Regions from separate parts of the Homo sapiens genome. Here region 2 is linked to region 1. The links come from fine-mapping of genetic effects on gene expression. A gene starts in region 1. The other region holds a variant in brackets. All regions are shown on one strand. Distances are between the middles of the regions.

Region 1 (5,336 bases):
AAAACAGGCATGCTGGGAACAAGAACATCAATATTTAAAATGCCACGCTAATTCTGTACAGGGAGGGAAAATGAAAGGTAAAAATTTTACAGCTCTGATGACACTACAACTTTTTTTTTTTTTAACTTAAGCAGGTCACACCAGAACAACAGTTCGTTTTCCAGCCAATTATCTAAGATTCTAAAGGAATACAGCAAACAAAAGTGCATTTTACACAGTGTATAATCATTCCTATTCACAAGTATTTACATCTCTTTGCAGCCCTTTAGCTTCTTGGAAAAGTTCTGGTAGCAAACAGAAAGACTTGTCCGTGGGAGAGCTATCCGGTGACATCCCTTCATGTTACCAGTCAGCTTATCTAAGTTCTTCCCGGGTTGCCCTTGATGCTTTCTTGGTTTGGGCTTATTTCATTTTCTTTCCTTCTTTTTTTTTTTTTTTTTTCCCAACAATAAAATAAATAGCTAAAAAGGTCTCTAAGTCATCGGAAAGTTAACATCCCAATTAACTTTCCCATCCCCACTTCCCTCCCTTTCTAAACCTGGCCAGAAATGAAGAGTAAACATTCACATTACAACAGGTACTTATAATGTGGGCTTTGCCCGTTCGTCCGCCTAGCAAGACAGATTCAAGTTCACTGTTTACATATTACTGGGCGCTTTGTAAACAATACAAGGTTACTTTTAGTTTTGTTTTGCTGTGTGAGGACGAGCGTCGCTTTCTCAGCTTGGCAGCCTCTTTCCTAACTCCCAGCGCCTGGAGCCTCTGGAAGGAAACAAAACCCCAAACAACAACAAAATCTCCGCAGAAGCCTAGGAGGCAGGGCCGCAACCCCGGGAAGCTGTGGTCGGCCCAGCCCCTGCCGGATGGGCGGAGGCGAGTGGGGTAGGAAGATTAGTGGCTCCTTTTTGCTGCAGATTTCCAAGACGTAAAGAGATCCGGCCCTCCCCTGCGCTGTTGCAGCCCTCGCGGGGAGGGGGTGTGGGGGGGATCTGTTCCTGGAAACATCTGAGGCAGTTTCTCTAGTCTTGAAACTGCGCAGAGTTCGGGGCTCCGCCGATCTGGGCGGAGGGAAGACGCGCTTTTCTCGGCGAAGAGGGGGTGACAGGGTTTCCCCCGCCGGTCAAATAGGAGGGGGTTTCGGGGCCTCAGGGAGGGGATGGTTCGGCTCAGGTGGCCCCGGCCTTCCTTGATGTGGGGGCGAGGACAACTCCCACGCGCCTCTCGGCCCATCTGCAAGTTTGTGTTTGGTCTCCTGGGTCCAAAACAAAGTTCTCTTGGGGCAAGGCGGGTTGGCCGAAGGTGAAATGAACAAGTTAGGGTGGCGGTCCCAGGTGGGGGCCGGCAGGACTGGGAGCCAGGGAAGGCGAGTGAGGTGGTGGGGAGGAGAACGAGAGGGGGCGTGGGCTCCTGCGGGTCAGTGCACCGCCACCGAGTGCAAGGCGGAGGCCGGGCTGGTGAGCGTTTCGCTGGGGGTGGCGGGGCTGCTTTGGCTGGTGGCTGTTTGCGAGGACGTGGGGCTGAGCGAGGGCGGCGAGTTCGAGAGCAAGGTGGGGATGGGCGCTGGCAGCGCAGGCAGCGCGGGCACGGCGGCCGGCGTGGGCTTAATGGGCACGGGGATGGCGGGCAGCGTTTGGCCCGCCGCGTGGCACAGCGGCTTCAACGGCACGCCGTAGGCGCTGTAGTCGCCACTCGCCATGGAGATGGGGGTGGCCGAGTCGATCATGCCGGCGGAGCCATACACGTGTGGCCAGCCGGTGCCCAGCGAGCTGCCCATGGTAGTCAACTGGTTGGGGAGCGGGTAGGCAGCGGGCACCGGCTGCATGGCGGAGAAGGCCAGCCCCCCAGGCATCTTGTATTCCCGCGCGATGATGTTCTCGATGGCGAAGGGGTGCTTGAAGCCCGAGGGCTGCGCCACGCCGCCCAAGTTGTAGGCGGCGGCGGGCATCTGTGGCAGGTGCGTGCCCGAGGCCGCCAGCGCGCTGAGCCGCAGCTTGGCCTGCTGCTGCAGGTACTGCGCCGCGTCGGCTGGCTTGCTGGGCGCCAGGTGGTCGGACTTAAGCACCTTGAAGCGCTTGCGGCGCCGCAGGAAGCTGCCGTTCTCGAACATGTCCCCGCAGCTTGGGTGCAGCGCCCAGAAGCTGCCCTTGCCTGGCTGGTCCGGCCGCCGCGGGATCTTGATGAAGCAGTCGTTGAAGGAGAGGTTGTGGCGCAGACTGTTCTGCCAGCGCTGCGTGTTCTCCCTGTAGTAGGGGAAGCGGTCCATGATGAACTTGTAGATCTCGCTCAGCGGCAGCATCTTCTCGGGAGAGCTCTGGATGGCCATAGCGGTCAGCGAGATGTACGAGTAGGGCGGCTTCTGGTCGCTGTACGTGTTGCGGCCGGGCCGAGGCATCTTCTTCCTCGCCCTCTTCTTGCTCTGGGTCCGCGCGGGCCGGCGGACTGCTCGGATCTGGGAAGGGGGTGGGTAATAGGGAAAGGTAGCATGGATGCACAGAGACACCGGCGGGGTCAGCCAGACCGAGTAACAGACTTCGGGGGTCGGGGGTGGGGCCTGCGGCGCTCGATCAGCCAGCGCCCGGACTCTTTCGCCAGCAACTTTGCGGGCTTAGTGGGCGCGGGAGGGGAAGCCGGCGAACGGCGCGAGGATAGCCGGGAAGTAAGTCGGTACTGGGGCCAGAATAGGGGGCAGGGACGGAACAGAGAGCTGCTCACCTTAAAGTTGCTTCAAGTTGCGCGTCCGCATCCGGGAGGACGCCGCTGCGCGCCGCTTCTCTCTCGGCGCGCACTCGACGCGCACTCCGCGCGCAGCGTCCGGGTCCGGTTGGACTCGGCGCGAACCTGGGCTCTTGAGCTCAGCCCCGCAGCGTCCCGTGCCGCCCGGTCCGCGACGCTCCTGGAGCGTCCTGCGGGCGGCCGAGCTCGGCTGCGGAGTCCCGGCGCGGATGGTGGCAGCGACGTGTTAGGGCTCCGGAGGGCGCTGCTGTGGGCTCCGCGTCTCCGCTGAGCTAGGTGGCTGCCTCCATGTCCTCCCTCGAACCATCTGATAGTTTTAAGCGGTGACAGGAGCAGAAAAGACCCCTGTAGCGGCGCTTCATTAATGTGCCACTTCTTAGCTATCATATGACAATCGCCTTGGGAGGAGGAGGAAGAGGAGGGGGAGCGGGGGCTGCAGAGGGAGGGGACTGAGCGAGAAGGGAGAGCCCGGCCAGCTCTGGTTTCTTTCACACCTATTTACATGGACACCTTGGCCAATAGGAATCACTTCCAGCTCAAGACTGGGCGAGGGGGAAGAGCCTCGGCCACTGGGCAGGCAGCTGGACGCGCCGGCCGGTGTGCGCCGTGTGAAGGTATGAGGAAGCGGCCGCCGCGGAAGAGGGAGCCAGGCGACCACTCACGTTCACAGATGGAGCAGCCGCGCGGATGATGTTTGACATGGAAATTGCTTGGCTGGGGTATTCTGTTTCCTCTGCGTTGTATCCGGTTTGTATCGTTAGGTAACTTTAGGCACGGCTTTCCCCTGAAGCCGACCCTTTTCCTGCGCTTAGCACTACCCGGGGTTGGTTGCATGGGTTATAATAATGAAAACACACCCTTGCCCCCCAGTCCCCGGAGAGTTAGGTCGAAATTTGACTTGACTTTCCTATGCAGCTGCTTCAGCTTTGTATAGTTAGTGTGTAGCTTTGAAAAAGTGATGGGGTTTACAAATACTTTCAAAATGTGATTGGACATCCCCATGTAAGAACCCATTTTGAATGTAACTGTATTGACCAAATTTTTAAAAATTAAAATAGTGTATCTGGGCGAAGAGTCCAGGTATTTGCTTTAAAAGTCCTCCGGGAATTTGGTTGGACACAGGATGGAGGCTCAGGAGCTGTTGGGGCAAATGTTGTGCGGACCTGGGGAGGGCCTGAGTTTGTTTGACACAGTTTATCACCAGGTAAGCCTCAGGGGCTCTCGCTTTTCCCAGGTGGTTTGAAACTTTAGGACTCAGGCACATCCTGGAAGTTTTCATTTTACACCCGGAACTCCCCTTCCCAGCCCTCCCACCCCCCCAACCTCCCACCCCCCATCCCCCAACTGCCGCTTTTTTTGGTATGGAGAACTTATTTAGGATTTAGAGTGTAGCAAAAGCCGCCTGCGATCCCACTAAGACAGCAGTATCTTCTACAACTTGGGGAAAGAACCATAGAGTTTTCCTTCTTGGGGAGCGGGGAATGTGCCTTGGGTCACTCCGCCTGGTGCGAGCAGCAGGCTCCCTTCGGTTCGGATTCGCCTTGGAAGGGTTAAATGAATCATTATTATTATTATCATTATCCTCATCGTCGTCGCTGCCGTCATCATCATCATCATCAAATTGCTATGAAATAAATAGTGAGTCGACCCCGCCTGCATGCACGCACTCTATAAGTACACACCAGGAGTTCCCACGGGTTTCTGCACATTCTCCGACCTTTAAGGTTTTTAAAAGACATTCATTTTACTGCGTTGTTAAAAACTCAATACTTACAGCCCACACAGAATCATCTTCAAAGTCCAGAAATGGGAGAACTTTTTTTTTCCCTAGACGTGGTGATCGTAGAGAATTCTGGGTGTTAAGTTTCAACACTTTAAGTGATATTAGAGCATTATTAGTGGAGCTGTTTGGGGTTAGCATAAAAAAGATCTTTCAGCGCGCGAATGCACACACACACAAACACACACACACACAACTTCATTAACTACAGTTTCGGAGGCGGTCAATAACTCACCAAAACGTAACTTAAACACGATGAATTTAGGAGATTAAACAATTTCATTAATATTGAAATGGCTCTGGCTCTGGGCTGCCTCGGTTGAGATGCAAGCGCACGTTTTTCAATATTAACAGAAGTGCTTGAAGAAAAGAATAATGTCACCTTCTTAATTCGGAAAAAATAACTGGGAGGAGGAGATGGGTGCGAGGGGCTGGGGGAGGGATGTTGACCTGTCTCTGGGGGTATGGCTCGAGAAGGGCAGATAAATGTATTGCCCTTCTCAGCAGATAAACCACTTGGACTCGGGTGGAACCTCTGCCAAGCTTTGGCCGGAGGCAGCCGTACTCATCCCAGCTACTCGCGCTTCAGGTCATAACGAGGTGCGGCGTTTGGGGGGTTACTTTGTGCGGCCAGATTCGGATCGAAGGTCCTGGGGAGGAAGGAGCTGGGGAGTCCAAAGAGCTGGGGAGCTTGGGAGATCCGTGATGAGGAATAGTGGGCAAGGCTTGTGTTTCCCAGAATGGAAAGGCGCTGGTCCACAGCTTTCCTGCTCCCGAGTACAGCTGGCCTCGGTACAAAACAGTTACTGTGGGCAAGGCAGGA
Region 2 (5,379 bases), 28 kb after region 1:
AAGGGATGGTTACATTTCTTTTAATACTATATTGGGCCGGCCGGGCGCGGTAGCTCATGCCCGTAATCCCAGCACTTTGGGAGGCTGAGGTGGGCGGATCACGAGGTGAGGAAATCGAGACCATCCTGGCTAACACGGTGAAACCCCATGTCTACTAAAAATGCAAAAACAAAAAATTATCCAGGCGTGGTGGCAGGTGCCTATAGTCCCAGCTACTTGGGAGGCTGAGACGGGAGAATGGCGTGAACCCGGGAGGCGGAGCTTGCAGTGAGCTGCGGTCGCACCACTGCACTCCAACCTGGGCGACGGAGCGAGACTCCATCTCAAAAAAAAAAAAAAAAAAAAAAAAAAGTATTGGGTCATTATTCTTGTATCTGAAAAAAAAGTTTGAATTCTGCTGGTTGTCATCATGTTTTGGACTATTGAAATTCTTATGTTTTTCTGGCCCTATTTTTGCTTGTTAATTATCAAAATAACATAACTGACATCTACACAATAGGTCAAACTTTAAAAAATTCATAGCTTTTAATTTTCATTTTGTTTATATTTATGCTATGTGAACATCCTGCATTTTAGAGTTTGTATATTACTTTGGGGAATAACTGCAGAGTCTTCCCGTTTACATAATTGTATTTAATGATAAAAAGAAAACCATGATGTCATGATGCCTGTGGTCCTCTGATGTTCTTTGTTATCAATTAAAAAATAAACTAGATTTTCTAATTCCCCAGTTCCTTGAAGATTTATTTTAAAAAGTGACCTGAATTTTTTTAACTTCATGCAAAAATGTTGCATTGTTTACAAGATGAATATTAAAATGATACAATTAGAATGAATAGTGATTTCCTTTGAGGTTCTCTTGAGAAAGAAAGTGCGACACCCAGACACCTTGGGATATCGCATGAAACGTATATGTTATCTACAAACCTGATTTGATATTAATGTATTCTACTCATCAAGTTTATTTTCCCTGTTGACTGAAGTTAACATTAATCCTTTAATTTGCAAATACTACAGTTCTAAAAATTACGTTTCCAAGTTGTTCGCTGGTGGTTATGCTATATGGTGTCATTGTAAACTCACTTCTGAGAAGATTATTTACAGTTACTCTAGAAGATGAAATTATCTCCAACATGTCTTTCTTGCAAAATTAGTGGAAATACTGGTTGCTATTAAACATGATCAGCTGCTATGACAGCAGGGTACTTGTAAAAAAAATTACTTACTATCTCTTTGTTTTCAGTCTTCACTGAGGTGAATATATTTAATGTAATTATTCAGCTGCTAACCAGCCACTGATGTTAACTATCTCTGTTTAAATAAAGTGCATCTTAAACAAAATCTATGCCACACCAAAGGTTTTATTTTTTTTCTTAAGAATTCTATTTTGTGTTTATATCTAGAAAAGGAATTTAATGAAGTATTGTGCTTTCTAAGCCCACACGTATTATTACACAGAGAAAATCTGATCATTCTTGTATCTTCAGAAAGGGTGGCATCGTGTCAAATTAAAATTTTGGATTTCTTAATCAGCCAGTGATTTATAAGACAATTTGGGGACAATTTACTTTATGAGTGCCTCAATTTACCTTTTCAACAGCAATGAAAACTTCGTGAGACTCTTTTGTATTTAGTGAAATACACTGGAACAAAGAGATGAAAACAGCGAGTGAACTATAAACTTCTCTTCTATTCTTATTATAGAAAAAATTACTCCAAGCCAGCAATGGGCAAAATATGTAAATATAATGCCCTTAGGTATACATGTAGTGCCTGTTGATTTCAAGGGAAGCCATGCAAATGTATATGAATAGAATTTGATTCTGAGTCTCTTCAGTTGGCTCAACAATTTAGGTTTTCAGTTATATTTATGTTTTACTATATCCCCCAAACAGCTCACAGAATAAATGTATTTTATGTCTTGAATCATCAGCCGGTCTTAAAACTGCTCTTTCTTTCTCTATGTAAATATTCCGACGTAGCTGGTTGCCTAACAAGCTTGCTTAACCATCCAGCAAACTTCGAATCCAAGGCCTATTCATACTTCTTGGTTCTGATATATGACTTTAAACTGGAAAAGAATCTTTTCAAAAATACGTTGCTCCCCAAGCATCACTCTAAGGAACAGAATGTAGCTGGGTTGGCTATTATTTGGGGGTTTGGAAACGCGGCTTAATGATATTCATATTAGAAATGATAAACCTGGAGAGTTATAACTTCTGTCTCCAATATATTAAGTCTGAACTTTGGCTCAACTGCTATTTTGATGGAAAGGTTTGTGCTGTTTCCTGCATTTATTTGAGTTGCCAGACTTCTTAAATGGCTTTTAAATATCTTAAGTAGAGCAATTCACTATTATATAGTAATTTTGTAGTTCTTTATGTTATTACTTGTTGAAAGTTACAAGCAGTGCATTTTTTGTTTCAAAACAAATTTCTATACCCAGCACAATTTCCAGTTTATAGTAGGTGCTCAACAAATACCTGTTAAGTAGATGAATATCAGCTGCTTCTGTATTCTTTTGATTCCTTGCTCTTGCTGTACCTGCATAACCATGAGTTCCAGGTGTCACACTATTGTACCCCACCTTCTACTCTAAAAAATATCAAAATAGGACCTTCGTTCAAGGTCCAACCAGAAAGAAGGAATCACTCTTCTTAAATCAGAGGAAATTTATTTAGTGCAAAGAACAGGTTACACAGGTGCAGAAAGAGCTGAGAAGATGAAAAGAGCACAAGAAAGCAACACAGAGGTTAGCAGTAGCAGGAAGCTACACGCCTAGACTGGAGGGACAAAGGGAGGAAGTGGAGTGGAGGAAGTGGTGTTACCACAGCTCAGAGGCTGGGGGCACCTGATGGAAGCTGAAACCACAGAAGACCATTCTGATAGACACTGATACTAAAGAGGTGATGCAAGAACGTGATACCCGACAGGCACCAGAAGCAGAGAACGGAAGAGGTCCTC[T/C]GGCTTCTCTCTTCCTTCTGCCCTCCTATTTCTCATTAGCCAAACACTGTAAAATGCCCGTTGACATGGGGGCATATGGAAGGCAGCCTGCAAGCCTCCCCAGCCCCCTAGACTGAGCAGAGCAGGGAAGGACAAATAATAGATCTGAGAGCAAACAGGCCATGACCTGATCCACTACCAAAGGAAGATATTTGGGAATAATAATAATAATATTTTAGAATAATATATTTGGCAATTTTGTGCTTTCCATTCCCTTCTGACATATCCCTGCCTGCCAGTCACTCTGCCCATTAACTCCTATCCCAGTGTGGCCTCACCAGTGATACTTCACCAGTCCTTTGATCCTGAGAGCCCTTCATGAGGCATAATCCAAGATCAGACAGCTGGCCCTGTACTTTACATGCCACTCGATCACCCATTACAGAGGAATCCAGCCCAGTGGACCTTGCTCCAGAACTTATCCCCCAGCCTCGCAGCTGATTTCACTGCCAGAGATGGTGGATGATTCTCCTGAGCTCCTGGTGGAGAGAGCAATGCGATCTTGGTTACCCAGGCCAACTTCCAAGCTTTTAGTGGTGTGATTAGGGCAGCCTCTGCGTCACCACAATTCCACCCTTATATTTTTCAATGAAGATTTTTTCTTTGGCAATTATTGTCCTTCACATTTTATGCTTCATTTATAAGAGTCTAATTTGCATTGCAACGTACAGACAAGCTACAAATTAAGACATCTTATTACGATTATCACTATTCATAACATTTTTCACTAGGCATCTGCTTTGATTTCTACAACAACCACATGATGTTAAGGCAGAGTTTCCCACCATTGGCACTATTGTCATTTTGGGCTGGACAGTTCTTTGTTGTGGGTTGTCCTGTGCACTGTGGCATGTTTAGCAGCACCCCTGACCTCTATTCACTGGATGCCAGTGGCACAGTGGCACTCCCCTCCCCCTACTTGTGCCAACCAAAAATGTCTCCAGACTTTGTCAGTTGTCCCATGAGGGATGAAAATCACCCTTCTTTGAGAACCACTTTGTTAAGAGGAGTACAATTATCGTGATCCACATTGTACAGATGAAAATACGAAGGTCAGAGATGTTAAGGAAGCATTCCAGGGATTTTTTACTTATACACCATCATATATTTTAACTTTTTACATAGGCTATACGTCAAATATCAATAAGAAATTCCTGGGGTGAAAAATTTGCTGGTCTGGGGCAAAGTTAAAACTGGGACCCAAAATATAAGGAAAAAAGGCAATATTTACTATTTTGAAATCCATTTCTAGGCCCTAGAAATTAAAGCAAGAATCTTGATTTTGATAACTGAAGGTTTGTATAATATTATCCTAATAGCTCTGTGTTATAAGAAATTGAGTGTCAGGACTACTGGGGACAGCCCTGGAATTTACTAAGCAGGGAAAACAGCACTAGTGGCTTTCTATCTGGCATTGACGTAATGACTAAATTTTTTTCCCTATATTTAAAATCTTTGGTTTCTTCAAGATAAGAACACCTTAATTTCCCTGATCACATCTGTCTGCTCACTAATGTGCATGTTTTCCTCTTTGTCAGCAGTTGGCTACCAGATGAAGTTTAGATAAATGGTTGTCAGCTTCCCTTACACTTGTTATGATGAGGTTTGGATGAAAGACTTACAGCAGATACTCTCAATGAGAAGAGTCCTGCACTCTCTGCAGTTCATTGAACCCATATGGATCAGAACAGCTGGAAGGATGGATATGCTACCTGAGGCCAGCAATTGTGTCGCCAACCATGACTCCCACTTGCTGACCCTCGTATAATGCATTGCAGTTCAGGGAACGTTGATCACTCCTTTCCATTTTGTGATGGATGGTGCCGTTTAAAACTGATGGCCTTGGAAACCACTGGTGAGTTTCTACATCTCACAGATGCAAGTGAGGCAGATAGTCAATAAATAATGGCATGTACTAGAGAAACATACACTGCTCTCCACCATGTGGGCTAAATGGTCCTGCCAACAAGCAAGGGTGACATTAGCTTAGGCCTGGAATGGAAAGGCATCTAGAAAAAACTATTTCTGGCTGGTACTGTTATAAGAAATACATGCTTCTTTCTGGACCTGTGTTTAAGATTGCTTTATGCATGTTGCTTGATTCTAGGGTGGCGCTAAAGCACCTGCACTACCTAGATGTTAATCTATGGCTAGCAAAGTGATAGCAACGCTTAAGAGGACAAAGCTTTACTGAATTAGATGCACTAATTAGGGCTGGAGTTTTGGGTACCACTTCATGGAAGGCAATTTTCTTCAGTCGTGTAAAGCTTGGCGAGGCATTCAGAATCATCTGGAAAGACTGCCATGATTGACACTGTTAAAGTTTTACATCATTCACAAACTCCGCTGACACTGAGTCCATTCTCCCAGAGCAAC

The links.
Region 2: its variant is fine-mapped to the expression of FOXB1 in blood mononuclear cells (TOPMed, PIP 0.95).

The regions. Positions count from the first base shown.
Region 1 is chr15:60,002,020-60,007,355 of GRCh38, reverse strand. FOXB1 (forkhead box B1) reads right to left here and starts at 3,045. Exons shown (of 2, transcript NM_012182.3): 1 at 2,713-3,045; 2 at 1-2,449. The coding sequence starts at 2,392. The coding sequence ends at 1,415. RefSeq lists a silencer at 452-746 and enhancers at 753-872, 953-1,032, 2,849-3,364.
Region 2 is chr15:59,974,162-59,979,540 of GRCh38, reverse strand. No RefSeq gene overlaps it. Among named protein-coding and RNA genes, the nearest start is that of FOXB1, 27 kb to the left of the region's middle. The variant T/C (reference allele first, on the strand shown) is at 2,965.